Homo sapiens: one gene and its partners. The protein of the gene in region 1 interacts with the protein of each later gene in a biochemical or structural test. Each region holds a gene or a part of one and is shown on either strand. Other genes may lie near its edges. The genes, in order: CD2, LCK, CD58 and CD2BP2.

The links.
Region 2: the proteins of CD2 (region 1) and LCK form a complex in vitro, tested with the Homo sapiens proteins (one study listed by BioGRID).
Region 3: the proteins of CD2 (region 1) and CD58 form a complex in vitro, tested with the Homo sapiens proteins (3 studies listed by BioGRID and IntAct, with this or other methods).
Region 4: the proteins of CD2 (region 1) and CD2BP2 interact in a biophysical measurement, tested with the Homo sapiens proteins (6 studies listed by BioGRID and IntAct, with this or other methods).

Annotation. Positions count from the first base shown.
Region 1 is NC_000001.11:116,763,382-116,770,345, forward strand, and holds the end of CD2 (T-cell surface antigen CD2 isoform 2 precursor), read left to right. Parts: intron 1-1,024; coding exon of another isoform or gene 1,025-1,102; coding exon 1,103-1,225; intron 1,226-5,082; coding exon 5,083-5,402; 3' UTR 5,403-5,848; downstream 5,849-6,964. UniProt on the Homo sapiens protein: CD2 interacts with lymphocyte function-associated antigen CD58 (LFA-3) and CD48/BCM1 to mediate adhesion between T-cells and other cell types. CD2 is implicated in the triggering of T-cells, the cytoplasmic domain is implicated in the signaling function.
Region 2 is NC_000001.11:32,266,601-32,275,264, forward strand, and holds part of LCK (tyrosine-protein kinase Lck), read left to right. Parts: intron 1-7,520; exon of another isoform or gene 7,521-7,597; coding exon of another isoform or gene 7,598-7,729; coding exon 7,730-7,834; intron 7,835-8,136; coding exon 8,137-8,218; coding exon of another isoform or gene 8,219-8,392; coding exon 8,393-8,483; intron 8,484-8,664. UniProt on the Homo sapiens protein: Non-receptor tyrosine-protein kinase that plays an essential role in the selection and maturation of developing T-cells in the thymus and in the function of mature T-cells. Plays a key role in T-cell antigen receptor (TCR)-linked signal transduction pathways.
Region 3 is NC_000001.11:116,513,329-116,519,985, reverse strand, and holds the end of CD58 (lymphocyte function-associated antigen 3), read left to right. Parts: intron 1-683; exon of another isoform or gene 684-718; coding exon 719-755; coding exon of another isoform or gene 756-759; exon of another isoform or gene 760-1,286; intron 1,287-5,163; coding exon 5,164-5,173; 3' UTR 5,174-5,452; downstream 5,453-6,657. UniProt on the Homo sapiens protein: Ligand of the T-lymphocyte CD2 glycoprotein.
Region 4 is NC_000016.10:30,351,459-30,360,226, reverse strand, and holds the start of CD2BP2 (CD2 antigen cytoplasmic tail-binding protein 2), read left to right. Parts: upstream 1-4,918; 5' UTR 4,919-5,015; intron 5,016-5,292; exon of another isoform or gene 5,293-5,519; 5' UTR 5,520-5,545; coding exon 5,546-5,623; intron 5,624-5,904; coding exon 5,905-6,043; intron 6,044-6,168; coding exon 6,169-6,326; intron 6,327-6,426; coding exon 6,427-6,859; intron 6,860-6,939; coding exon 6,940-7,046; intron 7,047-7,131; coding exon 7,132-7,242; 3' UTR 7,243-8,768. Other genes in the region: TBC1D10B (TBC1 domain family member 10B), read left to right, coding at 386-500, 624-689, 866-1,055, 1,410-1,564, 1,654-2,283. UniProt on the Homo sapiens protein: Involved in pre-mRNA splicing as component of the U5 snRNP complex that is involved in spliceosome assembly.

The DNA of each region.
Region 1 (6,964 bases):
TGATGCTGGGCCAAGTTCCAGTTTGTTCTTCAGATGACCCCGTCCCCTGACCCGAGCCCCACTGCTGCTTTTCTAACTGCTATTGACTCACAAAGGGCAGACAGCCCTAGAACCCCTCCTGTTTCCCCTGTTGCTGGGAAACAGCTCCCAGAAACACCAGTGCGAGAACACTAGTAAGAGCAAGACCTCACATTTGTGTTGTTTTACAGTTTACAAAGCACTTTCATATCCATTATCTGATTGACTTCCAACAGCCACCCTATGATGTAGGTTTCATTATCTCCACTTTACAAAGAAGGAAACAGGCTCAGAGAGGTGAAGTAACTCTCCAAAGTTCACACAGCTCCTGCCTAAAAAAGCCTAGACCAAACCCATTTCCCTTAACACCAAAGTCACTGTTTTCCTCATTGCATTACAGTGACTGAAGGTCCAGCAACTGAAGACTAAGCCCACTGCTGTTACTAACGCACTGTGCACCCGGGTTTCTCTCGTGGCTCCAGGGAAACTCTGTGAGAGGGTGCTGGCCGTGAGGTCAGAGTGCTGGGCTGGACAAGTGAAATATTTACCCTGAGTGTTTGGAAACTGCCTGGTAGAGACAGTGAGAAGGAATCATGGTGCAGTGGGGGTAGCCAGAGACGAGAGCAGGATCAACAGTGCAGAAACACCGAGACAAGGGGCTGCTTAAGGGAAATGCTCAGGAACAGATATTGTGTGGCTTCGGGCAACTCATTCTCCCTCTCAGGGCCTCATGTTTGAAGCTAGAGGTTGCATTTAGAGTATCTCTAAGATCCTCGGATCTAAAATTTCGTGATGCTTTCCATGACGGGGGCAGTGGGCAGGCCGGCCTTGGTGCATGAACAATCAGGCATTTCTAGCCCCTGAGAGCAGTTTCCCAAAGAGCCTGCAGAGGGAGCTTCCCAAGGACCTTGGGTCCTTCCAGGGTTGACACCACTCACCACCCTCTGTGAGCCTGGGAGTTATGGGGTGAAAGGTCCCAACAAGCTCTTCTATCTGCTTGATGCAGGAGGCAGCATCCTTGGCCAGAGTAATGGGCTCTCTGCCTGGACCCCTCCCAGCCATCCCACTTCTCTTCCTTTTGCAGAGAAAGGTCTGGACATCTATCTCATCATTGGCATATGTGGAGGAGGCAGCCTCTTGATGGTCTTTGTGGCACTGCTCGTTTTCTATATCACCAAAAGGAAAAAACAGAGGAGTCGGAGAAATGGTAAGCTCCCCCTCTTTTGTCCCACCGCAGGCCCCAGCAAAATCCCCATGAAACAGCTCATGGGGATGACACCTTGAATCTGCAGAGAAAATGATGGAAATAGGTAGTTTCGGAATGTCAGGGTTGTAGTCAGCGGTTATAGCTTGTTTCATTTTGTGGTTAGCTTGATTTTTGAAAAACAAATTCTTAGTGGTGACAATGTGGGAGCTTTGAGACACTGAATCCAGTTGGCCTCATTGGAATCCACCACTGAGGCCTACTTGGTGACAGGCTAATGTGAACATCTTTTGAATGAGCCACACTTCTCTACATAGGCAGAAAGGTTAGCTCCAAAACACCGTTTCTAGGAATAAATGTCCTATCTATGGGTGGCCCAAGGTGAGTTCAGGACCAAGCTCCTAGAAACACAGGGAAAATCATTCAGGTCATCAGGTAGTCACAGGAAAACAGCTGTTCTAAAGCAGGGTGCCTGTGCCCCCTTTGCTAATTCTCTGTTCGAGGGATGTGTTAGGGTTGAGAGTTTTTCCTCAGATCAGGCCTGTCTGACAATCTATCAGCAATGAAAAGGTTATGCTTGCAAGTGGGGAGCCGGCTTAGGGAGCATCCAGGCCACCCAAGGCAGAACACTTCAGAGAATGGCCAACCCGGGGTCACTGTGGGGGGCACAGATGAGGGTGTCAGCCATTGGCGGGACTTGCAGCCAAGGGAACAGGCCCTGGGGTTCTCTGCAATTCACGTTCACAGCAGGACTTGGTCTCTCCCTAGAACCGGCAGGCACAGCCACACCAGCTGCTTCCAGTGCTGCCCAGGGAGGTGGTCCAAACTTCCCCAGGCACCGGTGGCCTTGGGCCCCGTGCCCTCTGGATTTGGCTTCTTTACCTCAGATTTCTTCCTCAGTTCTCCTTCTGCCTCCCCATCAGGCTGCGGTCCCTCAGCCCCACGTCCCATCACGTCACTACCCCCAGCCCAGGCCCCGAAACATCATCCTGAACTTAGTCCCATTCTTCCCACCACGACTGTCCCACACTTTCCACCACAGCACAGCAGAATCGCTGGCAGGGCCCTTAGGCATGCCTGGCTTATCCTCCTCTGTGCCCAGCTCTGGCTGTTCTCCATGCTCCTCTCCATGCTCCTTCTCCATTGACTAATGGTCAAAGACCATATCTTCTTCCAAGGTGGACCTCACTTGTCACCCCAAGACAAGGCAATCTCTGCCATCACCAGGCTGAGAAGAATGATGGTTAGCTCATGCTGATAAAAAAGTCGTTAGTCTCTGTGTTTTATGTCTATTAGTGCATCCAGCTTTCAGAGTGATCTTAGGAGATAGATAACAACACAGATGAGGAAGCTTAAGTTCAGTGAGGTTCAATTATTTGCCTTAAATCCTATGGCCAGTAGGTTGACTCAGGCCTAGGCCGAGGCAAGGAGCCCAGAATTTAAGGCATAGAATTTAAGGAGGCTGGCCTGCCCTTGCACAACCTGAAAGTTGGTGTGTCTTTAAACTGCATGCCTGTCAGCCTCGCTTGCCTCATTCCAGTCATGCCCTGGGTTGAGTAACCAGGAGATGCAAACAAGGGAGAAGGACAATGAGCCTGGAGGAATTCCTGGGAGCACACATTTAGGCGCCAGCTGCAGCTGCTGGAGTGGGTAGGCTGAGGACCCACTGTCCTGCTTGAACCAGGCAGGGTGCACAGAGCCGTAGCCAACCTTGTCTGTCCAACCCTGCCTGCAGTCTCAGCCATGTGGCTACACCCCATTCCTCCTACCAGAGCTCATGTGCCTCTGTCTACACTTTCTGGTGGCCCTGGGCTCTTCACAGAAATTGACATTGCGATTTTCAGTTCTTGTTTGCCTCTTACTTGATTTTAGGCTTCCTGAGGACAATTTGTGTCTAAGTCACAATGACACTTAACACTTGGAAGATGAGGAATAAATGTTGGAAGGACAAATGAACCAAATGGTGTATGGGCCAAGTGTGGTGGCTCATATCTGTAATCTCAGCACTTTGGGAGGCCGAGGCAGGAGGATCATTTGAGCTCAGGAGTTTGGGACCAGCCTGGGCAATATAGTGAGACCTGGTCTCTACTTTAAAAAAAAAACTTAAAAATTAGGTGGGTGCATTGGTGTATGCCTGTAGTCCCAGCTAGTCAGGAGGCTGAGGTGGGTGAATCATTTCAGCCCGGGAGATCAAGAATGCAGTGAGATACGATCACACACTGCACTCCAGTCTGGGCAACAGAGCAAGGCCCTGTCTCAAAAAAACAAAACAAATAAAAAACAAAAATAGTGGGTGAACAGAGTAGTAAACCAATGGCCAGTGCAAGCTTGCCACATAGGAGATGAAGAAGGACCACCCACTGCCCCATAATTCAGAACTAGGGCCAGGGGTTAGAGCCCTCTCCACAGTCTACTGGACATAACCTAAGCAATGACTGCAGGGCACGGAAGATGGCATAGAGGATGTGTTTTGTCCTTTCTGGAGGCCCTTTCCTCTTTGTGCTTAGAGCACACGAGCCATTTAGGTATCAAAATCACATTGTCTAACTTTGACTCTACACTCAAAGCCATCTGATGCTCACATTTCATGTAGTCAGAGGAGGCCATCTGGTTTGAATCAACATCCGGAAGTTACAGGGTGATGCTTAGAGAGGGCTTGTGCTTCCCCAGCCACACATCTCCATAAAGATGTAAGAGGTAATTATTTCAGCTGGGTGCGGTGGCTCATACCTGTAATCCCAGCACTTTGGGAGGCCAAGGCAGGCAGATCACCTGGTCGGGAGTTCGAGACCAGCCTGACCAACATGGAGAAACGCCATCTCTACTAAAAATACAATATTAGCCGGGCGTGGTGGTGAACGCCTGTAATCCCAGCTACTCAGGAGGCCGAGGCAGGAGAATTGTTTGAACCTGGGAGGCAGAGGCTGCAGTGAGCCAAGATCGCACCATTGCACTCTAGCCTGGGCAACAAGAGTGAAACTTCAACTCAAAAAAAAAAAAAAAAAGAGGTAATTATTTCACCCCAGGGAAAAACTTCTCTTCCTACCTCCCTCTGGAGCCACTGCAAAGACGGCCTTGGGTGCAGGGACTGAAATACCTAACTTACAGCCTAAAGGAGTCCAGAGGGGCCAGCAGGGTGCTCCAGGCCTCTAGCAGCTGGGCACCTTCACAGATTCCCTGTGATTTTAAGAGTACAGGAAAAACTACATTACGAGTAGCTGTAGGCCTGCTTTCATGGACTGAAGTCACACAAAGAAGAAAATCCTGAAGGGTGAGGAGAGGAGGAGTTCTTTCCCTCCTAAGGCCAAGAACATAGGTCTTGAATTTCTGAGAAGCGAGTAAATTTCTAAGGACAAAAAGTTCCTTGCATGTGTTCCAACCTCTTGCCGGAAGGTGGATTGCATGACAGTAGAATTGGGGGAAAGGCAGATCTAACATAGAAATGCCTCAGAAGGAATGTAGTTACTAATATCCTCCATGACTGCTCATAACCCCTTCCCATGCGCTCTAACCATGAGGTTCTTGCTCTCAGGGAACAATTTCTAGGTCAGCACAGAGGTAGGGTTCCAGGTCTGCGTGCTCTCTCTGATCATGGGAGCCCCAGGCACAAAGCCCTCCACCCATGTGTCTTCTTCCTGCTGATTCCTTGAGTTCTCTTGTCCTAGGCTTTCACTCTACCTTATGGTGAGCACTTCTTTCTCTCCTACAAGCTTAGAGTTCTCAGATAGTAGGGGCAACTTCTGCTTCCTCATTGCATCCCCCAAAGCAGCTAGCATGGCGCCTTGCATATAAAAGGTACTCAATATTTACATTGATTTCACCTGGCCAAGATGAACTCTATTGAGGTTTTGTTGTTGCAGATGAGGAGCTGGAGACAAGAGCCCACAGAGTAGCTACTGAAGAAAGGGGCCGGAAGCCCCACCAAATTCCAGCTTCAACCCCTCAGAATCCAGCAACTTCCCAACATCCTCCTCCACCACCTGGTCATCGTTCCCAGGCACCTAGTCATCGTCCCCCGCCTCCTGGACACCGTGTTCAGCACCAGCCTCAGAAGAGGCCTCCTGCTCCGTCGGGCACACAAGTTCACCAGCAGAAAGGCCCGCCCCTCCCCAGACCTCGAGTTCAGCCAAAACCTCCCCATGGGGCAGCAGAAAACTCATTGTCCCCTTCCTCTAATTAAAAAAGATAGAAACTGTCTTTTTCAATAAAAAGCACTGTGGATTTCTGCCCTCCTGATGTGCATATCCGTACTTCCATGAGGTGTTTTCTGTGTGCAGAACATTGTCACCTCCTGAGGCTGTGGGCCACAGCCACCTCTGCATCTTCGAACTCAGCCATGTGGTCAACATCTGGAGTTTTTGGTCTCCTCAGAGAGCTCCATCACACCAGTAAGGAGAAGCAATATAAGTGTGATTGCAAGAATGGTAGAGGACCGAGCACAGAAATCTTAGAGATTTCTTGTCCCCTCTCAGGTCATGTGTAGATGCGATAAATCAAGTGATTGGTGTGCCTGGGTCTCACTACAAGCAGCCTATCTGCTTAAGAGACTCTGGAGTTTCTTATGTGCCCTGGTGGACACTTGCCCACCATCCTGTGAGTAAAAGTGAAATAAAAGCTTTGACTAGACCCGTGTCTGCTCATTGTGTGAAGGATCCCAGTGTCGAGGAGAGGAAGCTGCCGAATAAGAAAGAGCCTCGCTGGTGTGACAGCAGGATCAAATTCAGTCAACTCAATCCGGCTGAGACCTCCTTAGTCCTCACCAGAATGACCCGAACATGCTCCCCAGGTCTCAGCTGCAAAGCTGGGTCCAACAACCTATTTGTAGATTTCCATAATGAATTAAAGCCTCCATGCACAAACGTTAACAGGAGTCACCAGAAAACTTAACATTTTAGGTCTTACTTTCTTGACTGTTCAGACACGGTCATAATGACCTGTACTGTCATCCTTCAAAACAAGGGAATCTATGGATACTGGAGGTGTCATGAACTCATCAGATGACATACAAAAAGATAGGCTAAGAGACAACTCAGTTGAATCAAATCTTAAGTGTCTTAAATGACTATGATTAAAAGGTCAGACCCCATCCCCAGCTAGCAGTCATGCAGCTGTACTTTGAGGGAAGTGGGGAGAAAAAAATAGTTTTCAGTTAGAGTTCTAAAACAATAGGTGGTGAGAAGGCACCTGCTTTGAAATGCTGGTGCCTTGTCTGTGGTCCTGTCTGCCCGCCTTCTCCTTGGCTTCTTAGACTTGCTAAACCTTGTTACACTCTGGCAGGAAGCTCTGAGGGCTAAACCACAAAAACTAAGTACATTCAGGACTTCCTGTGACAGCTCACTGAGGATTGAACTACTTTTTCCTCTGAATCTGAGAGTCTATTTTTCCAGCAACCAGAGTTAATTACTAAGGGCAATGATGAATGAAACCTCATCGCCTCCCAAAATTCAAACACAAAATCCAGCTAGGTAACAATTGCCACAGGATCTACCCAGTAGAGAGATGAGGGCTCTGGCCGGGCATGGTGGCTCGTGCCAGTAATCCTAACACTTTGGGAGGCCAAAGCAGGTAGATCACCTGAGGTCAGGAGTTTGAGACCAGCCTGGCCAACATGGTGAAACCCCTTCTCTACTTAAAAAAAAAAAAAAAAAAATTAGCCGGGCATCGTGGCACGCACCTATAACCCCAGCTACTCGGGAGGTTGAGGCAGAATAATTGCTTGAACCCTGGGGTGTGGAGGTTGCA
Region 2 (8,664 bases), about 84 Mb from region 1:
CTCCGCCACCACCACCTCCTCTCCTCCTTCACCTCCTCCTCCTCTTCCTCCTCCCCCTCCTCATCCCTCTCCTCCCCCTCCCCTTCCCCCTCCTCCCCATCCCCTTCCCCCTCCTCCCCCTCCCCTTCCCCCTCCTCCCCCTCCTCTTCCCCCTCCTCCCCTCCCCCTCCCCTTCCCCCTCCTCCCCCTCCTCTTCCCCCTCCTCCCCCTCCCCCTCCCCTTCCCCCTCCCTTTCTTTCTCCTCCTTCTTCTTCTTTCCCATCTCTCCCTTCCTCCTATACATTCCCTCTTCTTAACCTCAAACTTCTACAATCTTTCTCTTGCCTTTTTCTAAAGGCTCCAAGAATGTCAAGCCTGGCAGGGACCTTACTGGTCTAAGTCCACATTCCATCTGATGTTGGTATTCTCTTTACAACACAACCAACTTGTGGTTTCCTAAGGCTCATACGACTATCACAAACAACAGGATGCTCACTACCTCACAAAACAGCTCAGCTTATCTGAGACCAGTTCCAGGTTGCTGTTAGTCCTTTACTGGGGGCTCTTGTTGCTAATTACTCTCAGGCTATAATAGTCAAAAAGTCATTTGCAGTCACAGATGGGTGCACTCTGGTCTAGCAGGATTTCCCAAATGTCCACCTCCCCCCAGGACTCCTAACAGTAGGGGAAAGAGTGAATACGTACCCTTTTCCTGGAAAGTTTCTTGATTTGATTTAAAATTCCATGCACATTTTGCATTTTCCTCCATAATAGGTCATGTTTGTTTAACTTACATGAATAAGGTCAGGAAACACTCATGCTCTGGAAAAATGCACACCATGACATGACTTCCGGTACCCATGGGAGGCTGAGTATCTCAGTTTAAGAAACAGGAGTCGAGCTGGGCACGGTGGCTCACGTCTGTAGTCCCAGCACTTTGGGAGGTCGAGGAGGGCAGATCACCTGAAGTCAGGAGTTCAAGACCAGCCAGACCAACATGGTGAAACCCTGTCTCTACTAAAAATACAAAATTAGGCCGGGCATGGTGGCTCATGCCTGTAATCCCAGCACTTTGAGAGGCCGAGGCGGGCAGATCACCTGAGGTCGAGAGATTGAGACCAGCCTGACCAACATGGAGAAATCCAGTCTCTTAAAAAATACAGAATTAGCCGGGTGTGGTGGCACACGCCTGTAATCCCAGTTACTTGGGAGGCTGAGGCAGGAGAATCACTTGAACCTGGGAGGTGGATATTGCAGTGAGCCGAGATCACACCATTGCACTCCAGCCTGGGCAACAAGAGCGAAACTCTGTCTCAAAAAATAATAATAATAAGGCCGGGCACAGTGGCTCACGCCTGTAATCCCAGCACTTTGGGAGGCCGAGGCAGGAGGATCACAAGGTGAGGAGATTGAGACCATCCTGGCAAACACGATGAAACCCCATCTCTACTAAAAATATAAAAAATCAGCCAGGTGTGGCGGCACGCGCCTGTAGTCCCAGCTACTAGGGAGGCTGAGGCAGGAGAATCGCTTGAACCCAGGAGGCGGAGGTTGCAGTGAGCTGAGATCGCGCCACTGCACTCCAGCCTGGGAGACAGAGTGAGACTCTGTCTCAAAAAAAATAAAAAAGAAAAAAGTAATGAGAGAAATGCAAATGCAGAAAGAGAAATGCAAATGCCTGGCAGTATGTTGGGCTTCTTTTCAAAACTTAAAAAAATTTATTATTATTATTCATTTATTTATTTACTTTAGACAAGGGGTCTTGTTCTGTCACCCAGGCTGGAGTGCAGTGGTGCAATCGTAGCTCACTGTGGCCTTGAACTCCTGGGCTCAAGTGATCCTCCTGCCTCAGCCTCCCAAGCACCTGGGATTATAGGCATGCACCACCATGCCCAGCTAGTTTTTATAATAATAATAATAATAAGAGGCTTGCTTGAGGTGATGGATAGCTCATTTATCCCTTTTGTGATTATTACACATTGTATGCCTCTATCAAAATATATCATGTACCCCATAAACATATATACTTACCAGATACCCATAAAAGTAAATAAATAAATAAGTAAATAAATAAATATACAAAATTAGCCGGGCGTGGTGGCACATGCCTGTAATCCCAGCTACTTGGGAGACTGAGGTAGGAGAATCGCTTGAACCTGGGAGGCAGAGGTTGCGGTGGGCCGAGATCGTGCCATTGCACTCCAGCTTGGGCAACAAGAGCAAAACTCCGTCTCAAAAAAAAAAAAAAAAGAAAAGAAAAGAAACAGGAGTCTAGGGCTGGGCACAGTGGCTCATTGCCTGTAATCCCAGCACTTTGGGAGGCTGAGGTCAGGAGTTCGAGACCAGCCTGGCCAACGTGGCAAAACTCTGTCTCTACTAAAAATACAAAACACAAAATACAAAAATTAGCCAGGCGTGGTGGTGCACGCCTGTAGTCCCACCTGCTTAGGGAGGCTGAGGGAGGAGAGACAGAGCTTGCAGTGAGCCCAGATCACACCACTGCACTCCAGCCTGGGCAACAGAGCAAGTCTAAAAAAAAAAAAAAAAGGAAAGAGAGAAAAGAAACAGGAGTCTAGGCTGGGCATGGTGGTTCACGCCTGTAATCCCAGCACTTTGGGAGGCTGAGGTGGGTGGATCACTTGAGGTCAGGAGTTCAAGACCACCCTGGCCAACATGGTGAAACCCCCATCTCTACTAAAATTACAAAAATTAGCTGGGCGTGGTGACACATGCCTGTAGTCCTAGCTAGTCAGGGGGCTGAGGCAGGAGAATCACTTGAACCTGGGAGGTGGAGGTTCCAGTGAGCCAAGTTCACACCACTGAACTCCAGCCTAGGTGACAGAGTGAGATTCTGTCTGTTTTTTTTTCTTTTGAGATGGTATCTTGCTCTGTCACCTAGGCTAGAGTGCAATGGCGTGGTCTCAGCTCACTGCAACCTCCACCTCCATGGTTCAAGCAATTCTCCTGCCTCAGCCTCCCAAGAAGCTGGGATTACAGGCGCGCACCACCACGCCCAGCTAATTTTTGTATTTTTAGTAGAGACAGGGTTTCACCATGTTGGCCAGGCTTGTCTCGAACTCCTGACCATGTGATTTGCCCTCCTCAGCCTCCCAAAGTGCTGGGATTACAGGCATGAGCCACCGCGCCCAGCCGAGACTCTATTAAAAAAAGAAAAAAGAAAGAAACAGGAGTCTAAAGCAAAGGAGATTAATTACCCAGTCCCATTCTTCCACCTTCCAAAGCAGGAGTTGGTAGGACAGAATTGTGCACTGGTGAAAGTGTTTCTAAGCACTAAACTAAGCTAACATTCATGTGAGCTTATGAGAAATGGATGAAGAGCCCCATTTGACAGAAGAGGAAAAGTGAGGCTTAGGAGGAATGATTTCAGCAAAGTCACACAGTAAGTGTCAAAATTGCTATTTGAACTTAGGTCTCTAACTATGGGGACAGTCTTCTGAGTTTTGCTAATGAGAAACTTCCACTGCTCCCTGCTTCCACTTAGACCCAGCATGAATTCTCTCTCTCTGTCTCTCTTTTGTTTTTTCTTTTTAGACAGAGTCTCTGTCACCCAAGTTGGAGTGAACAGTGCGGTGGCAGTGGCAGGATCTAGGCTCACTGCAACCTCCACCTCTTGAGTTCAAGCAATTCTCCAGCCACCATGCCCAGCTAACTTTTTTTTTTTTTTTTTTTTTGTATTTTTAGTAGAGACAGGGTTTCACCATTGTTGGCCAGGCTGGTTGTCTTGAACTTCTGACCCCAGGTGATCCACCCACCTTGGCCTCCCAAAGTGCTGGGATTACAAGCATGAGCCACCGTGCCCAGCCTGCTCTTTTGAGATGGAGTCTCGCTCTGTCATCCAGGCTGGAGTGCAGTGGCTTGATCTCGGCTCACTGCAACCTCTGCCTCCCGGGTTCAAGTGATTCTCCTGCCTCAGCCTCCTGAGTAGCTGGGATTACAGGCGTGTGCCACCATGCCTGGCTAATTTTTGTATTTTTAGTAGACACGGGGTTTCACCATGTTGGTCAGGCTGGTCTTGAACACCTGACCTCGTGATCCACCCGCCTCAGCCTCCCAAAGTGCTGGGATTACAGGAATGAGCCATCGTGCCCGGACTTTTTTTTTTTTTTTTTTTTTTTTTTGAGACGGACGGAATCTCACTCTGTTGCCAGGCTGGAGTGCAATGGCGCAATTCCGGCTCACTGCAACCTCTACCTCCTGGGTTTAAGCGATTCTCCTGCCTCAGCCTCCTGAGTAGCTGAGATTACAGGCACCTGCCACCAAGCCCGATTAATTTTTGGATTTTTAGTAGAGGCAGGGTTGCACCATGTTGGCCAGGATGGTCTCGATCCCTTAATCTTGTGACCCACCCGCCTTGGCCTCCCAAAGTGCTGGGATTACAGGTGTGAGCCACCGCGCCTGGCCTTTTTTTTTTTTTTTTTGAGACAGGCTCTCGCTCTGTTATCCAGGCTGGAGTGCAGTGGCACAATCGTAGCTCATTGCAGCCTTGAGCTCCTGGGCTCAAGTGATCTTTTTGCCTCAGCCTCCCAAGTAGCTGGAACTACAGGCATGCCCCATCACACCTGGCTAATTTTTTGATTTTTTTTCTAGAGATGAGGTCTCACTATGTTGCCCAGGCTAGTCTGGAACTTCTGAGTTTGAATGGTCTTACTGCCTCAGTCTCCCAAAGTGCCGCGATTACAGATGTGAGCCACCACGCCCGGCCAGCAACTCCAGCTTTGCTCTACTCCAAATAGGTTGTGTGACTTTAAGCATACCTCTGTGGGCCTCAGTTTGCTCATCTAAAATCAGAGGTTTAGCCAGGTATGGCAGCTCATGCCTGTAATCCCAGCACTTTGGGAGGCCAAGAAGGAAGGATCACTTGAAGCCAAGAATTTGAGACCAGTCCGGGCAACATAGCAATACCCCCATCTCTAGAACAAATAAAAAATCACCTGGGCTCAGTGGTGCCAGCTACCCAGGAGGCTGAAGTTAGAGGATCACTTGAGCCCAGGAGTTTGAGGTTCCAGTGAGTTAGGATTGGGTCATTGCACTGCAGTCTGGGCAAGAGAGTGACACTTTATCTCAAAAATAAATCAACAAATAATAAAATTGGAGATTAGGCTTGCTGGTTTCTAAGACCTTTGCAGATGGGAGACTCTATGCATTAACACTGCATGTTCCAGTTGACATTTATTAACTAATTTTGGGTGCTGGTGGCTTTCAGACAAATAAACTACAGCTTCTGCTCTTGATGAACCCCCACTCTCATCAAAGGTATGGGAGAGGCAGTGGGACCCTGGGGCTGACATGTAAATCAGTAATCATGGAACTCTGTGTCTAAGTTGATTATTGAGGTCTGAATAGAATGTTGCAGGAGACTGGGGTGAGAGGGAAGCAAAGAGCATTGGGAAGTCTTCAGACTAGGTGATATTTAGGCCAGGTGCCTGTAATCCGAGCACTTTGGGAGGCTGAGGCAGGAGAATTGCTTGAGGCCAGGAGTTCGAGACCAGCCTGGCCAACATGGTGAAACCCTGTCTCTACTAAAAATACAAAAGTTAGCCAAGCGTGATGGTGCATGCCTGTAATCCCAACTACTCAGGAGGCCGAGGCAGGAGAATTGCTTGAACCTGGGAGGTAGAGGTTGCAGGAAAAAAAAAAAAGGTAATATTTCAGCTGAGCCTTGAAGGTTGAGTTAGAATTCAGCAGTTGGACAAAAGAGAGCATGCCGACTGGGTTCGGTGGTGCATGCCTATAATCCTAGCATTTGGGGAGGCCAAGGCAGGAGGATTGCTTGAGCCCAGGAGTTCGAGATCAGACTGGGCAACATAGTGAGACCTCATCTCTACAAAAAAATAATCAGCTGGGCATGATGGTGTGCACCTTTAGTCTCAGCTACTGGGGAGGTTGAGGTGGGAAGATTGCTTGAGCCCAGGAGGTCTAAGGGGATTGCGCCACTGCACTTCAGCCTGGGAGAGGAAGGGAGACCCTGTCTCAAGAGAGAGAGAGAAAGAGAGAGAGAGAGAGAAAGAGAGAGAGAGAGAGAAAGAGAGAGAGAGAGAGAGAGAGAGAGCGAGAGAGCGCACGCATTTCAAAGCAGGGAGAACCACAAGTACAAAGGCATTAAGTAAGAAAATAGCATGGGGTGTTTGGGAAAGGCAAGAATAGTTCAGAACACAGGCTGTGTGTGTGGGGGTGTGTGGGGGTGCCTGTGTGTGGGTGTTTGTGTGTGTGTGAGTGTGGGTGTGTGGGGGTATCTATGGAGGGGATGCCTGTGTGTGTGTGTAAGGTGAGTGTGTGGATGTGTGCATGGGTGTGGGTGAGTGTGTGGAGGTGCCTGTGTGTGTGTATGAATGTGTGTTGGGGAGGGGAGAATGTGTGTGTGTGGGGTGAGTGCGTGTGTGTGGGGGTGAATGCGTGTGTGTGTGTATGTGGGTGTGACTGTGTGGGTGTGTGGACGAGTGTGTGTGTTCCTGGGTGTGGGAGCCTGTGTGTGTAGGGGGAGTATGTATAGGGTGTGTGCATGAATGTGTGTGTGGGTACGTGTGTGAGAGTGGGTGCCTGTGTGTGGGGGGTGAGTGTGTGTGTGGGGGGGCACTTGTGGAGGGTGAGTGTATGTGTTTACTGAGTGTGAGTGTGGGTGCCTGTGTGTGGGAGGGTGAGTCTGTGTGTGAGTGTGTGGGGGAGTACCTGTGAGGGGTGAGTGTGTGTGTTTATGTGAAAGTGTGTGTGTGTGGATGCCTCTGTGGAGGTGGGATAGGGGGTGCCTCTGTGTGTGTGTGTGAGAGTGTGTGTGTGTAGGGTGTGTATATGTATAGGGTGTGTGTGAGTGTGTGTGTGTGAGAGAGTGTGTGTGTGGCAGAATAGACTGCGGAGGTGGATTTCATCTTGATATGAAAGGTCTGGAATGCATGGTACATTAAACTTTGAGGACAGCGCTTTCCAAGCACTCTGAGGAGCAGCCCTAGAGAAGGAGGAGCTGCAGGGACTCCGGGGGCTTCAAAGTGAGGGCCCCACTCTGCTTCAGGCAAAACAGGCACACATTTATCACTTTATCTATGGAGTTCTGCTTGATTTCATCAGACAAAAAATTTCCACTGCTAAAACAGGCAAATAAACAAAAAAAAAGTTATGGCCAACAGAGTCACTGGAGGGTTTTCTGCTGGGGAGAAGCAAGCCCGTGTTTGAAGGAACCCTGTGAGATGACTGTGGGCTGTGTGAGGGGAACAGCGGGGGCTTGATGGTGGACTTCGGGAGCAGAAGCCTCTTTCTCAGCCTCCTCAGCTAGACAGGGGAATTATAATAGGAGGTGTGGCGTGCACACCTCTCCAGTAGGGGAGGGTCTGATAAGTCAGGTCTCTCCCAGGCTTGGGAAAGTGTGTGTCATCTCTAGGAGGTGGTCCTCCCAACACAGGGTACTGGCAGAGGGAGAGGGAGGGGGCAGAGGCAGGAAGTGGGTAACTAGACTAACAAAGGTGCCTGTGGCGGTTTGCCCATCCCAGGTGGGAGGGTGGGGCTAGGGCTCAGGGGCCGTGTGTGAATTTACTTGTAGCCTGAGGGCTCAGAGGGAGCACCGGTTTGGAGCTGGGACCCCCTATTTTAGCTTTTCTGTGGCTGGTGAATGGGGATCCCAGGATCTCACAATCTCAGGTACTTTTGGAACTTTCCAGGGCAAGGCCCCATTATATCTGATGTTGGGGGAGCAGATCTTGGGGGAGCCCCTTCAGCCCCCTCTTCCATTCCCTCAGGGACCATGGGCTGTGGCTGCAGCTCACACCCGGAAGATGACTGGATGGAAAACATCGATGTGTGTGAGAACTGCCATTATCCCATAGTCCCACTGGATGGCAAGGGCACGGTAAGAGGCGAGACAGGGGCCTTGGTGAGGGAGTTGGGTAGAGAATGCAACCCAGGAGAAAGAAATGACCAGCACTACAGGCCCTTGAAAGAATAGAGTGGCCCTCTCCCCTGAAATACAGAAAGGAAAAGAGGCCCAGAGAGGGGAAGGGAATCTCCTAAGATCACACAGAAAGTAGTTGGTAAACTCAGGGATAACATCTAACCAGGCTGGAGAGGCTGAGAGCAGAGCAGGGGGGAAGGGGGCCAGGGTCTGACCCAATCTTCTGCTTTCTGACCCCACCCTCATCCCCCACTCCACAGCTGCTCATCCGAAATGGCTCTGAGGTGCGGGACCCACTGGTTACCTACGAAGGCTCCAATCCGCCGGCTTCCCCACTGCAAGGTGACCCCAGGCAGCAGGGCCTGAAAGACAAGGCCTGCGGATCCCTGGCTGTTGGCTTCCACCTCTCCCCCACCTACTTTCTCCCCGGTCTTGCCTTCCTTGTCCCCCACCCTGTAACTCCAGGCTTCCTGCCGATCCCAGCTCGGTTCTCCCTGATGCCCCTTGTCTTTACAGACAACCTGGTTATCGCTCTGCACAGCTATGAGCCCTCTCACGACGGAGATCTGGGCTTTGAGAAGGGGGAACAGCTCCGCATCCTGGAGCAGTGAGTCCCTCTCCACCTTGCTCTGGCGGAGTCCGTGAGGGAGCGGCGATCTCCGCGACCCGCAGCCCTCCTGCGGCCCTTGACCAGCTCGGGGTGGCCGCCCTTGGGACAAAATTCGAGGCTCAGTATTGCTGAGCCAGGGTTGGGGGAGGCTGGCTTAAGGGGTGGAGGGGTCTTTGAG
Region 3 (6,657 bases), 250 kb from region 1:
CTTTATAAGCTCTAGTCAACCCTATTGACTAAGCTTCTGAACCACTAGCATAGTTCTAGGGTCAGGCGGATGCCTACTGTGGGCAGGAAAGTGATGCATGCATGTGTGGGAGCAGTGTCTTAATGTCTGAAATAGTAGCCATGAGCTACATGTGGCTATGGAGCACTTGAAATGTGGGAGTCCAAATTATCATGTGCTGTGAGTGTAAAATAATATGTTTCTAAGACCGTGTGTGAAAGAATATAAAATATCTCATTAAAAAATGTTTATATTGAGTACATGTTGAAATAATTTTATATTTGTGACACATTGTGTTAAATAAAATATTAAAATTTACATTTTTTTTTACTTTGTAATGTGGATACCAAAAATTTTAAATTACTTATGTGGCTTGCATTATATTTCTATTGGACAGCACTGGTCCAAACTATTCTAGCCTTCCCTGCATCTTCAGCCTTATGCACGAGGTAAAATTAGCCATTTTGTCAACAGTTTTTGCATTTGGTTTTCTATCATGTTCTGACCAATTTTTGAACAACTCTTTGGACCAGCTCTGTAGCCGATTTGATTTAAAGCATATAGGATAGCAGGAAATCCCAGGGTGATGGGGCTCTGGCTTAGTTTTCCATATTTAGGCCTCTAATAGGCAGTCAGTAACTCCACATTTCACCTTTTCTTTTCAGTTCTTTAATTGAGAAGACAATTTCTTCATTTTTAGGTATTCTGAAATGTGACAGAAAACCAGACAGAACCAAGTAAGTACACTGCAGGCTGTGCACTCTGTGCCAGAACAACAGCAGCCCTGCTGTAGATGCCCATTACTTGGGAAGCCAGATTGTACTCATCTGTTGGTTGCCTTGTACAGTAATAAGAAGTAACATCAGCAGATATACTAACCATAGTGTATTAAGTACCAACTGTGTGCCATGCACTGCACTAGCCACTCTCTGCATATCGTTTCCTGGAACCCTCTCAATGAGCCTTGCAGGAGGAGTATCATACCCCTTGCTTAGAGACAGCGCATATGAGATTCATAGAAGTCAAGTGAGATATCAAAGTCACGTTGCTAGTAAGTGATGGGCTGGGATTTAAATCTAGGTCTTTGGACTCCAAGAGTTATACTGTTAACCACTACAATACACTCCCTCCACCTCCCATCCCAGAAAAAGTTGGATCAGGGATAGGGTTCACTTCAGGAGCCAGGGTCAGAGCTGGGCCTGTAGTCACATATAAAAGATAGGACACAAACACAATTAGCAGCAGTGTTGGTTTAATAAACCGCCGTAGGGTGCTCCAAGAGGCCCCCTCCTGGCAGATCCCACTGGTGGTCAGGAGGCAGAGGCATGAGCTGGGTGTTGAGGGATGAGGGGAAGAGTTAAGGCCCAGGGTGTGAAGGGCAGGACAAGAAGTAGCAAGCCATCCTCTTTGGAGCAGAGAGTGTTGAGGCATTAGAGAAAGATGGGGCTGGGCTGGCAGGTTGGGCCAGGCTGAGACTTTGAGAGAGGCTTTGGGTCATTCTTTAGGGAGAACCGCAGAGTTTTCTAGCAGAACTATGCTTTAGTAAGATCACTCTGCTGGCAAAGCATGGGACTAATTAATAGGAGATGAGATGAGGACACTGGTTAGTGGAGTAATGAAATAATCCAGCCAAGCAGAGAAGAGGGCCTGAGTCAAGGTGATGGTGGCAGAACTGAATATGCAGAGCTAGGTTTGAGAGAAACAGCAGAGGTCCTGTTAGCAAAACTTTCATCTGGCAGTGTAGGCTCTGATGCCAAACTCCCTGGTTCAAATGCCAGCTCCATTTCTCACAGGCCTTGGACAAGTCACTTAAACTCTCTGTGCTTTGGTTGTCTTCTGTGGAAAATGGGCATAATGATAATATAGAAATGACAATGATAGCATAGATAATCACATAGAAATAACTGTGTCAAAATATATTAATATAAGTACAATGCTTACAATAGTGGCTGGCTCATAATAGTTTTCAATAAATGTTAGCCATTATGACTATTGTTACTATTATTTTTCAAGAAAAATAAAAGCGACAGGACCAAGTGTCACAGAGGAGTCACACAGGAATCTTGGTTGGGAAGGAAAATTATGAATTTTTGCTTTGACAGGTTGATTTTGGGGTGCTGGTGTATTACCTGGCTAGTGATGTCCATGCACAGAATTGGAGCGTGGGCTTCACGCTAGAGTTACGGATTGGGGCGCCTCTTCATCTGGACAGTAATTGATGCCGTGAGCACCTGAGGTCACTAAGAAAGAAAAGCTAGATGCCCTAGGGTGATGGGAAGAGGCAGAGGAGGCGGGACTGGGGAAGCAAAGTCCAGGATCAGAGCCAGGGTAGCCCCGGGTTAGAGACTCGAGGGAGGAGGCTACATGTTAAAGCTGCAGAGACAAGGAGGTAGGCGAGGGGTTAAGACCTTTGGTTTTGTGGAGTCGGTTGCTGTGGTCAGTGCAGGGATGAAGTGAGGGTGGCTAAGCAGCAGCAAGGGCCTAGGTGAGGTGGGATCGATGGATGGGCCACAGGTGTCCTTTCTCCTCAGCTGCCAGGTGGAACAGTGCAGGAGAAACAAGCTGTGGCAGGAGGCCTGGGGGCAAGGAAGTACAAGGGGCAGCTCAGCCGGCCACAGACCCAAGCTGGGAGGACCCAAGGCCATGAGGGGTTGATGGGCCAGGAGGCTGGGCAGAGAGGAGCCAAGTAGCTGGAGATGAGGTGAGGTGGGAGAGGTAGGGACCTCCAGGCTTGTGGTCAGAGGAAGGCATTTCAGATCTGAGCAATATGCGTGAGCCCCAGGTGAGTGTGAGAGCCAAGTCAGGTCTCTGCTGAGATCTAGGTGGTTACAGTGGAGGGGAACTCTGAGTGGATGGGGGAGGCATAGCCATCACTACCAATGATGGGGGTAGGGGGGCATCATCCAGGGCCACGGGGAAAGGGGATGGGCATTCTGGAACTCATCCCTTCCTCTGTTCCTTTCATCACAACAAACGTTATGGAGATTATGCGATACCAGGCACTGTGCTAGCTGATAGGGTGGGGGTCAGAGTACCCAGCGAGGCTAGACATTGTGTGGGATTCAGAGAAAGCATATAATAGGGCTCCTCCCACAAGAAGCTTGTGGCCACACCAGGGAGAGAGAATGGATGCACATGAGCATACGAAACTCTTAGAAGGACTTAGGCAGGAAGCACAGGTGATAGGCAGAATGTGTGATATGAGGGTAAGGGCTGAGCAACCAACGCAGAGGAATTGGAGAGGCCAGAATAATCAGAAAAGCTTTGGAGGGGGTAGGATGTGACCTACATTTTCAGAACAAGAGTGGAGTAGAAAAGGCATTCCAGGTGGGATAAACAGCGGAGGCAAATACATGAGAGGGAATTAAATCTGTTGTGATTTATTTGATAGTAAGATTGACCTGCCTGGCATCGAGTTGAAGTAGAGGCAAAAGACACTGAATATTTGCAAGGAGGTCCTTAGAATGGAGTGATATGGAAATAAGCAGCCATTATAGGTTCTTGAGCAGGAACATTTTGCATGAAAAGCACTGCTTTGGAATGATGAGTCTAGAAAGGTAACACTGACCTCTCTAAGGTGGCATTCTAGGGAGAGACCTGAGTATTTGGGGCTGAGATTGAGAGAGGAGCTTACTTTTCTTGGTATATTTTTATTTACTATTCAAGTTCTGCATCATGTGTGTTTACTGCCTATTTAATAATTATTTTTAAATTTAAAGAACCCATTGTGGCAGCAGGGGGAATTCTCTAAGCTCAGTTACTAAAGGGTTATGAAGCTGGGTATGGTAGCACACACCTGTAGTCTCAGCTACTTGGGAGGCTGAGGTGCGAGGATCGCTTGAGTTTAGGAGTTAGTGGGAGGATTTCTTGAGCCCAGGAGTTAAGAGACCAGCCTGGGCATCAAAAAAATTAAGTTAAATTAAAATGTTAAAAGGTTCTGTATATGGTGGAGATGGAGGAGATCGGGGGAGGAGATGAGAAAGGGGCAAGCATAAGTAGGAACAAATGCAATATTTCCCCAGCTGCGCGAGGGCAGGAGCAGGAAGAACTAAACCCAATTAGGAACAACAGAGGACAGATGAGTAGATAGCAGACATCTGACGGGAAATGGCCACGCCACACTTCTCACCCAGGCAGTTCAACGTAGGCAATTTCTGAGTGCCCTGGTATTTTTTGTGTAAGTGTCTAGAAAACAGATCACAAAGTTAGCCAAATTAAAAAGGAAGCAGGGAGTCCTATTTCTCCGAGAAGAAAGATTTACAGGTGGGATCTCAGGCAGGAGCCAAGCTGGAGAAGCAGGCTTGATTCCTTGTAGTGGGTGAGGAGACTGCTGGGAGAGGGCAGGGAAGCAGAGACCGGCAAAAAGCTGCCCCAACAAGAATCCTGTGCCTGCCAACCTGGTTTACAAACATTTCCCACTTTATCCCCCTCAGAAAGTCACAGCACCCATTTCATGTTCTGTGAGGCTCCCAAGGAGGGAAACTTCTAGTTTGCTGTCCTTTACCTCACCCCTGTGACCACAGCACTAATTTCTCATGAATTCTTGTTACCAATGAGATACAAATGTTTGGGGAGCTCTGGCCTGGTCTGATTTTGAGCTCTGTGGAAATACGCAGACCACGGGGGAGGAGGCCGGGAAATGGACTCGGTTTGAGGGCTTGCTCAAGGATGCGGTTTTGTTTTTCGGCTGATTTACTCCAAGACAGCCAGAGATTGTTCTGTCGTTGCCACAGAGGTGACTAAACAGGAAGGTAAGTTTGAGGTAGGAAGAAAACCATCCCCAGGAGTTTCATGTAGCAAAGAAGGAAGTAGCTGTTACAAATGGGTGACAGTTTACATGTGGGTCTAACAGTCTCAGCTCTGTTGTTCAATCTTTCAGTTATACTCAGAGAGTAAGCGGGAGGAGCCTTGGGGCTGCTATTGAGTGCAGCATCCTGAAGGCTGTTCTTCAAGTGTTACTCAGACTACTATCCCAAGAGCACTCAAGGCAGTTCTTCCTCCATCCCTGCTCCCTAGCTCCCTTGGCTTTGATGAGTTTATTACAAAAGGGCTATTCACTTTAGAATAGGAGGGTAATTAAGACTCCTGGTCTGCAGCCCAGATTTACTGCATTTTACAAGTTAATAATATGATTTTTTTTTGTAGCTCCAATTGATTGGTAACAGAAGATGAAGACAACAGCATAACTAAATTATTTTAAAAACTAAAAAGCCATCTGATTTCTCATTTGAGTATTACAATTTTTGAACAACTGTTGGAAATGTAACTTGAAGCAGCTGCTTTAAGAAGAAATACCCACTAACAAAGAACAAGCATTAGTTTTGGCTGTCATCAACTTATTATATGACTAGGTGCTTGCTTTTTTTGTCAGTAAATTGTTTTTACTGATGATGTAGATACTTTTGTAAATAAATGTAAATATGTACACAAGTGACTAGGTGGTTTGGCTACTGTTTTCCTAAGATAGAAAAATAAGGGTCACATACCCTTTTAAAATCTATACTCTTTCTCCCTTGCTTTAGGGGAAAAATAATTCATTGTAGGGTCATTCATGGAGTGAGGGAGAAAAGTACTGTCCCTCACTGGGTTCCACTGCTGTCAGTACGAGGCAAGTGAACACATGGGTCTTTACTTCTAGCTGCTTTTGAAAAGAGCAGATCACCACCATCCAGTGCAGTTGTATAACACAGGTGGGGCAGGGAGACTTCTCTCGCTGCCATTAATTAGCCTACTTAGTTTGTTGCATTGGTTAGCTGTCACATTGGGAGGTCAACAGCAGACAGTAGCTGGAAAACCGTAGTCATAACAAATACAGAGTGGCAGCCACTCCTGAAGTGGTGGACGGTGCCAGTTGCCTCTGGCAGCCATGTAAACCCAAGTCAATACATAGACGCTTTAGCTTGTGCCTGCACTGTCCCTGGAATTCCTGTCACATGAGAGTCTCCAGGCTGAAGGAAGAAATCAATATTTCTTGACTCCAAGATGGGCCTGTCAAGGTGGGTGGATCACAAGGTCAGGAGATCGAGACCATCCTGGCTAACACAATGAAACCCCATCTCTACTAAAAATAAAAAAAGTTAGCCAGGTGTGGTGGCGGGCTCCTGTAGTCCCAGGTACTCGGGAGGCTGAGGCAGGAGAATGGCGTGAACCCAGGAGGCGGCGCTTGCAGTGAGCCAAGATCAGGCCACTGCACTCCAGCCTGGGGGACAGAGCGAGACTCCATCTCAAAAAAAACCCCTCAGGCTACATGTGTTCTCTCTAGAACAGCCTGCATCTGAGCTCCCACAGGCCTCAGCAAGAGTGGGAAAGGAGCCCAGAGTGCTTCTGGGAAGACCCACATCTCCCCAGCTCCCCCCATCTCCATGTGGCATGGATTCCTATCCTGTCTCAGACTAATCTTGTCAAACCCTTTATCCCAGACCCTGTAGGAAGCCCATGACTCCCCTGGAGACTTCTGTCCCATGCAGCTCTGTAATGCCCCACTTTCTGCCCCCATCCATCAGCAGCGACATCCCTGATGTCCTCTTCTGTGAATGCCTCCTTTGCTTCGCTGTTCTAATCGAAACCCAGCTCTCCCTGGGGATGCTGCCTCCCACAGCCTCTCAAGGGGTAGCTGTGTTCTTTCCTGCATCCCTTGTA
Region 4 (8,768 bases), on another chromosome or scaffold:
ACCGATAAGGCAGGCCCTGCCCTGGGGAGCTACTGCTTTGGGGTGACAAAGACATTTAGTGCTAGAGGAGGGCTGATGCTGCAGCTGTGGAAAGCTTCCTGGAGAAAATGACCTGGAAGGTTTCTGGGATGTGGCTGAGGAAGGAGGGCGAGGGTGCAGCCTGTGCTGGGATGGCCAGGAGCATGTGGAGTATGTAGCCAAAGGCGGAGCCCCGGGGCCTGGAGTGCTCTGCTGTGGGCTGAGCCTTTAGCTGAAGCTCGCTCAGCAGGACTGGGCAGGTGGATGGAGGAGCCTGGTGATAAACTCTGGGACGAATCTGGAACTGGGTTTGGGGACAGAGCTCTCAGCCCGTGACTGCCCTCACAGTCTTCCCCAACCCCCACAGGCAACAGGACCTGTACCGAATCCTGAAGGCCTACACCATCTACCGGCCTGACGAGGGTTACTGCCAGGCCCAGGCCCCCGTGGCTGCGGTCCTGCTCATGCACATGCCTGCGGAGGTCAGCGCCCTGGTCCTGGGCCGGGAGGGGCAGGGGGGATCTCACCCTACAGTGGTGATGGGGGAGCTCCCTGCTCCCTGCTTCTCAGGCCCCACCCCTCCTCCTTGTTCTTGCTCTTCTCAGCAAGCCTTTTGGTGCCTGGTGCAGATCTGCGACAAGTACCTCCCAGGTTACTACAGTGCAGGGCTGGTGAGTGTCTGGAGGCTGGGTGCATCCGGGGCTGTGGCGTTTCCTCCAGGCTGCAGGCAGGTCCTTGCCTTGCCCCACCCTGGCCTTCCCGGCTTCTGCCCACAGGGCCGGCCAGTTCTCCCCTGATGGGGGCACAGCTGACTTGGCCCTCTTCTCATGGCTTGTCCCACCTGCAGGAGGCCATTCAGCTGGACGGGGAGATCTTTTTTGCACTCCTGCGCCGGGCCTCCCCGCTGGCGCATCGCCACCTGCGGCGGCAGCGCATTGACCCTGTGCTCTACATGACGGAGTGGTTCATGTGCATCTTCGCCCGCACCCTGCCCTGGGCGTCGGTGCTGCGTGTCTGGGACATGTTTTTCTGTGAAGGTACTTCTGTGGCCCTCCAGGCCATGAGGGGCTGGGGTTTCTGTGGTGGCTACCAGGGGTTCTGTCATATTTCTGGTGGTCCATGGACAAAAGGTACTTGTTGGGTGGAGGTTTCACCATAAGCAGCTGGGGGCTGGAGAAACAGGCCTGATTTTAGTTCTGCCACCAACCCAGAGCCTGCTCTCCCTGCCAAGATCCTGAGACTGATAGCAGCTCATGTACTTTCACAGGGCCTCAGTTTCCTCATCTGAGATTGGCAGTAGATGGGGATGGGGGCTGTGAGTCTATCCTGATCAGGACAGGCTGAGATCTTGGGTCTGACCACCCCATGCTCTCTACTCTCCACCCCTGCAGGCGTTAAGATCATCTTCCGGGTGGCCCTGGTCCTGCTGCGCCACACGCTGGGCTCAGTGGAGAAGCTGCGCTCCTGCCAAGGCATGTATGAGACCATGGAGCAGCTGCGTAACCTGCCCCAGCAGTGCATGCAGGAAGACTTCCTGGTGCATGAGGTAGGCCTGTGCCCTCAACGCAGCCCCTGCCTGCCTCAGCCCGCTCCCACCCTCAGCTCCATTCTGGTACGCATTTCCTCTCTGTGCAGGTGACCAATCTGCCGGTGACAGAAGCACTGATTGAGCGGGAGAATGCAGCCCAGCTCAAGAAGTGGCGGGAAACGCGGGGGGAGCTGCAGTATCGGCCCTCACGGCGACTGCATGGGTCCCGGGCCATCCACGAGGAGCGCCGGCGGCAACAGCCACCCCTGGGCCCCTCCTCCAGCCTCCTCAGCCTCCCTGGCCTCAAGAGCCGAGGCTCCCGGGCAGCTGGAGGGGCCCCGTCCCCGCCGCCCCCCGTCCGCAGAGCCAGTGCTGGGCCTGCCCCAGGGCCTGTGGTCACTGCTGAGGGACTGCATCCATCCCTTCCCTCACCCACTGGCAATAGCACCCCCTTGGGTTCCAGCAAGGAGACCCGGAAGCAGGAGAAGGAGCGGCAGAAACAGGAGAAGGAGCGGCAGAAACAGGAGAAGGAGCGGGAGAAGGAGCGGCAGAAGCAGGAGAAAGAGCGAGAGAAGCAGGAAAAGGAGCGAGAGAAGCAGGAGAAGGAGCGGCAGAAGCAGGAGAAGAAGGCTCAAGGCCGGAAGCTTTCGCTGCGTCGAAAGGCAGATGGGCCCCCAGGCCCCCATGATGGTGGGGACAGGCCCTCAGCCGAGGCCCGGCAGGACGCTTACTTCTGACCTCTGCCCTGGGGCTGGACTGCATGGCCCCCCTCTTTCCCTCAGCCAAGAACAGGCCTGGCCCAAGGTGCCACCCCCTAGCACCTTGTCAGGCTGTCCCTTGCTGGGGAAAGTGGCTTGGTTCCCCATCTCCTCGCCAGCTGCTGATCCCTACACGGGCAGGACAGATGGGCAGCTGCAAATGAGTCTGGAGCCTCTCATCTCCCATGAGGCTCAGCTGGGGTCTCTGTCGCTCCTGCCCCAGTTCCCTCTGGGTCCCCTCCTAGGTGCTGTCCTGAATGGCCCGTTGTCATCCCAGGGGTGACTCCTGGTGATGGGAGTCAGCAGTTTCAGATTCTTACACTCCATAGCTCCCCTTACCATGAGGTGGAGCTGGCTTCCTTTTCCCTGTCTTCAGCCCTCCCTGTCTCCCCCACTTCCTGGCCAGGGCTCTCATTCTGGACCTGTGTTGTAATTGTGTACAGAGGATGGCGTTGGCCTGGGGTGGGGGTGCTCGCTTTGTCTTCTGTCCTTTGGTTCTCCTTCCATAATGCTCCTGTACCCAGTTTATTTAAGGGGACATGCACTGGAATAGGAAATGTCCCCCATCTCCCTTCCTGCACCCTGCTGTGCTCCCTCCAAACCCACCTTGCTCTGTGTTCTCAGGCCCCCCTGCTTTTGTCTCACCAGGACCCATACCTTTCACCTTGTTCCCTTCCACCCCTCCAGTTAGTCCCTATCTGGGTAAGGGTCTTCCCTTGAGCTCCAGGGGGTGGAACCCAATGTTTACATTCTCTTCTGTCTCTGCCCCCACCCCATGCAGCGCTTTGAGGAATTGGAAAAGAACCTGCTGTTGTACCTGGGCCTGTTTTCTGCCTTGTTATTTGATGAGGGGGGGATGGGGTAAGGACGAGGGAGGGAGGGACAGAGCCAGGACCTGGGTCTCTGTTGAAGCAGTCTGCTGTCTTGGCAAGTAGGTACCTCTTAGCTTTGGGTCCATCTCTCAGTCACTCATCAGACACTGGTTGAGCTCCTGCTCCATCTTTGCCTGGGATCTGCTGTCTCCATTGTCACTGGCTGCCTGGAGCTCTCTATGTACCACGTGCAGCACCCGGATCTCCTTCCCAAAGTGCTCATGCAACTCCTGGAAGCTGGAGGGGGTACTCACAGTGGCTAGAAAGCCACTGTCCTCTGGGGATGAGATGGGTTCTTGGCCAGTTGCCTGGCACAGCTCCCAGTATTGGGTTTTGGTGGGGGGGGAGGGGGGACAGCAGCCCAGCCAGCCGCCTCCAGCTCGCGCCAGCCAGTGCCCACAGCCAAGTCTCCAGCTCTTCCTGGGTTTCTGCAGCCAGCTTGTAGGCCCGCCCACCTGTGCCCTCCACCCCAGGGGTCAGGATGGTAAAGGCATAGGGTTCTGCAGCCTTAAGGTGTGGTTCCACCTGGCAGTTCTCTAACAGGATGAGGCTCAGGGGTGCATGGTCGGTCTAGTGTTCTAGGTAGAAGAGGAGGTTTCCTCGGAGGATGAACCATCGGCGCTGGTAGCTGAGGTTTCGGGTCCCCTTCTTTAGCAGAATGCCTTCCTGGTCTGGGGCCTGTGTTCTGTAACCATGGAAGAAACTGAGCACGGACTTTCTGTGCAGTTTTCATCGTGATCCAATATGGGAGGAAACCCCTAGGGAGAGAGAAGTGGCCCATCTAGTTGCCTGGGGGAAGAGTAGGGGAACTCTCATGCTGTCCTCGTCTGGCTTCAGCACGTGCTGCCTGCGCACAGTCTTGGCTTAGGGGGATGCAGGCTCCGAGTGTCAAGAGCTAGGGGTCCCAGCACAGGGGCTGATCCCCGCTACCTCCCCAATTCCCCCTTCTGCTTGGGCCACATTCCGCTACCTGGGCAGGAGTTGCTAGGCCCTGTTTGCTCAGGGGGGCTTCATGCTGCAGAGAGGCACTGTTGCCCTTTTCCAGGCCTACCTGAGAGCAGGGCACAAGGGGCTTCTGGCCTGAGTACTGGCGCCAATGCCACCTCTCCAGTGATGGCTCTCCCACCTCAGAAACCAGGAACTCGCCCAGGGTATGGGCGTGGGACAAATTATTTCCCCTGGGTCCTAAAGGGAGGTGTGTTCAGAAAGTGCCCGGAGAGCCGTCCAGGGGCCCCAGGCTGGCCATCGGGAGAGTCAGGCTTCCCCTCGGAGAGGCAAGGCTGCACCTCTCAGGCTAGGAGGGCTGACCACTGGACCATAGGAATGGGAAGGCAGGATTTCTAACGAGACGGTAGGGGCGCTGAGCCCTTAGCCCTGGGGGAAGGGTGACTTGAACCCAGGACAGGAAAACGGAGCAGCAACCCACTGACCCTGCTCGGACTTTGCCCCTCCATCCTGACCCTGGGCGGCCCTTTAAGCAGATGCGCTCCAGTTTTTCTCCAGAGCCTCTACTGCTTGAATGACGGACTCGAAGCTACTTCCGGCCATTTCTCACGCCCAGTCAGAGTCCAGGAATTCTTAGGTTCCCTCTTCTCACCATTGTCCTCCCACGTGACTGACGTCACTTCTGGCGGGAGAGAGGGTGGAGGCGTCTTCGCTCGCTTATCGCATACTTCCGCCCGCTCTTCCAGTTAGTTCCCTAACCCGAGTGAAGCCACTTCCGGGCTTCCCGGGCGCCTTCCGCAGTCCTCTTCCGGGTGATGGCGGCCGGGTGCCCCGGATGTAGCCCTGGCGCAAGCATCTCTTCTTTTTTCCACCTCGCCTTCCGCGGATTCCCAGGTGAGTGCGCGAGGGTGGGACCGCCCGAATCCCCGTGGCCCTCTAAGTTGTACACAGCCCGGGACAGTTGGGGCTCACCACACGGAATTGGGAGTTCGGAGCAGGGAGGAACGGGGTGGCGAGAGCGCCAGGTCCTGGGTCTGCCGGGGCCCGGCGAGCTCCGAGAGAGCCAGGGTAGAGAGCGGGGGTCAGCCCGTGGAGCCGGTGGCGCGCAGACTGCGGGGGCTGGAGTTGGGGGCGGTCACGTGGTGAAGCCTGTCTCCTTTCAGCCAGGGTCGGGGGATCCAGAGGGTCCGCTCCTCCGTCCCCGCCCCGTTTAACTCGCGGATGCTAGACCCAAGTCCTGGAGGCCTCCTGGCTGCCAGCTTCCTTTCGGCCCCTGCTTTTGTGCTCCCTCCGCTCCCAAACTGTACCTGTCACAGACCAGGAAAAATGTTTGCTGTGCTGCGTCTGTTGGCGAGTCCCCTCCTCACCCGGTTCCCTTCCTCTGCATCCTTTCCTCAGCTTGAGAAACACCTCTTTGCCCCGTCATGCCAAAGAGGAAAGTGACCTTCCAAGGCGTGGGAGATGAGGAGGATGAGGATGAAATCATTGTCCCCAAGAAGAAGGTGAGGGGGCCAGACTGCTTTGTGTGGGGGAAAGAGGAGCTAGAAGCCTGAAGAGGAAGAAAGCTGGCGGGAGAGGGGCGGGGCGGGCAGGCAGAGAAAAGCCTAGTTTTTTCAGGTTCTCTGAGGAATGGGTTGGGAGCGTCTTTAGTGTGGCTCCTGAAATATTTGGGGAAGTAGTCGAGATCCTGAAATATTTGGGGAATATTTGGGTCCAGATCCGGAAGTATTTGGGGAGGTAGCCAGTAACCTGCATTTCTCAACTTTCTGGCTCCTGCTCACAGCTGGTGGACCCTGTGGCTGGGTCAGGGGGTCCTGGGAGCCGCTTTAAAGGCAAACACTCTTTGGATAGCGATGAGGAGGAGGATGATGATGATGGGGGGTCCAGCAAATATGACATCTTGGCCTCAGAGGATGTAGAAGGTAAGCTGTACCCAAGAATACACTCTGCTGGAAAAACAAGTAGGGGCCTCTGGTGGTGTGGAGCGAGGGAGGCTCCGGTCTCTTTTTTCCATGCCTGGAAAAGGGCACCTGTGTCTTTGGTGCAGGTCAGGAGGCAGCCACACTCCCCAGCGAGGGGGGTGTTCGGATCACACCCTTTAACCTGCAGGAGGAGATGGAGGAAGGCCACTTTGATGCCGATGGCAACTACTTCCTGAACCGGGATGCTCAGATCCGAGACAGCTGGCTGGACAACATTGACTGGGTGCGGCCCAGGGGCTGGCGTGGCTGGGGCCTGGGAGTGGCAGATGCTGGGCCTGCTCCCGTGGCAGTTGGTGGGAAATCACTCCATCTTCCCATTACAGGTGAAGATCCGGGAGCGGCCACCTGGCCAGCGCCAGGCCTCAGACTCGGAGGAGGAGGACAGCTTGGGCCAGACCTCAATGAGTGCCCAAGCCCTCTTGGAGGGACTTTTGGAGCTCCTATTGCCTAGAGAGACAGTGGCTGGGGCACTGAGGCGTCTGGGGGCCCGAGGAGGAGGCAAAGGGAGAAAGGGGCCTGGGCAACCCAGTTCCCCTCAGCGCCTGGACCGGCTCTCCGGGTTGGCCGACCAGATGGTGGCCCGGGGCAACCTTGGTGTGTACCAGGAAACAAGGGAACGGTTGGCTATGCGTCTGAAGGGTTTGGGGTGTCAGACCCTAGGACCCCACAATCCCACACCCCCACCCTCCCTGGACATGTTCGCTGAGGAGTTGGCGGAGGAGGAACTGGAGACCCCAACCCCTACCCAGAGAGGAGGTGAGCTTGGAGGACAGAGGAGGGGGCAGTGGGTAGGAAGTGAGACACTGGAGGCCAAATGGCTTTGCCTGTTATTTTAGAAGCAGAGTCGCGGGGAGATGGTCTGGTGGATGTGATGTGGGAATATAAGTGGGAGAACACGGGGGATGCCGAGCTGTATGGGCCCTTCACCAGCGCCCAGATGCAGGTGAGCTGCTTTCTCCCTCCTCCTGCCTTGTCCCTGCTTCCCCCACTCCTGTCAGTTGTTCCCCAGCTCTGCCCTCTCCTTGCAGACCTGGGTGAGTGAAGGCTACTTCCCGGACGGTGTTTATTGCCGGAAGCTGGACCCCCCTGGTGGTCAGTTCTACAACTCCAAACGCATTGACTTTGACCTCTACACCTGAGCCTGCTGGGGGCCCAGTTTGGTGGGCCCTTCTTTCCTGGACTTTGTGGAGGAGGCACCAAGTGTCTCAGGCAGCGAGGAAATTGGAGGCCATTTTTCAGTCAATTTCCCTTTCCCAATAAAAGCCTTTAGTTGTGTACTGGGGCCTTGGCTGTGCTGATGGCCAGAAGCCAGGGGCCTTCTCCACAGTCCCTTTGGACTTGTCTTGGTCCCTGAGTACTCCCATGAAGATCCTTCTTGGAGGTGCCTGTCAGGTATCCTGTGGCCTCCCTGCCTGGACTCTGCTTGCCGTGTAAACACCCCCAACTGCGCTGCTCTGTGCTCCTCTCCCAGGTTTCTTGTTCGATTCCTCTTAGGTCTTTGGCTTTCAGGACCTCAGATTCTTTATCCTTGTAGCCACCAGAGGACAGAGCCCCAGAAGTGGATGTTTTAGGCCCAGAAGGACCAGGGCATCGAGAAGACATTGGGACCCTGTTGGGGGTGAGCATGGAACCCTCTTACTCTCGCTTCACCCTCTCAAGCTCCTTAGATGCTGGGCAGAAGTGGGATGAGTGGCCCAAGACCGAGATCCCTAAGGTTCTGAGAGCCAGTGTCTTCCCTAATCTGGCTTTCCTCTATCCTTGCCGTCGTTCCCACAGCCCTTCAGTGAAGTGCAAACTCAGTGGCCAAGTGTGGGCCAAGTGTGCATTGTACTGGCACAGAGAGGGGCAGTGACTCACTGGAGATCACAGGAATCAAAGGGCTGGCCCAGACCCAGTGGGCTCCTTTCCCAGACCTTTCTTGGCACAAAGCCTTTGCTGCCTGGCCTTGGAGGCCCTGCGGCCTACATTCTCTGGACCCCACTATGTGCCTGGCACAGGGCTAGTGCCTTGAGGAAACTGAGGTAGCTGGGTTGGTCCCCTTCCAGGAATTCAGAGTCTGGTGGCAGGGGCATGGGAAATAGACAGATGTAATTCTATAGCCTGGGCCTGGCACCCTCCACCTCCACGCCCCACCAGCATTGCCTTACGCCTCCCTTGCCCCACGTTAGATGGTTTCTTCCGGTTTTGCACTCTGGCTGCCCCTTGGAGTCTCCTGGGGAGCTGTAATATCTCTTTGGAGATTCAGATTGAGCTGGTCTAGGTTGTGGCCCAGGCATTGGGCATTTTGGAAGCCCCCAGGTGTTTTCAGCTTGCAGCCAGGCCGAGAGAGAGCCCCTGAGTCAGATCCCCATGGTTTAGGCACACCTAGCGGGAGGGGTGGCTCCTGGACCCCACCGTGGTTGGAGAGCTGAGCATGTGTGTGGCTTTAGTGGGGTCTGTTAGTTATGGGGGTCTGGGCACTGGAGCTGCAGGACACTTGGGATCCCAGGTCAGAAAGGGCCAGATGAGCAACTAGGAAAGACTTGGGGGCCAGGGCGGAGTGGGGTCACCTGACACTCTTGTGAGGCCCCTTCTAGTGCCTGCTCACACCGGAATTTCATTCACTCCAAGAAGCCATCAGGGGTAAGATACCTTCCTTTAAACGTCACTAAGAAAGAAGAGGCCT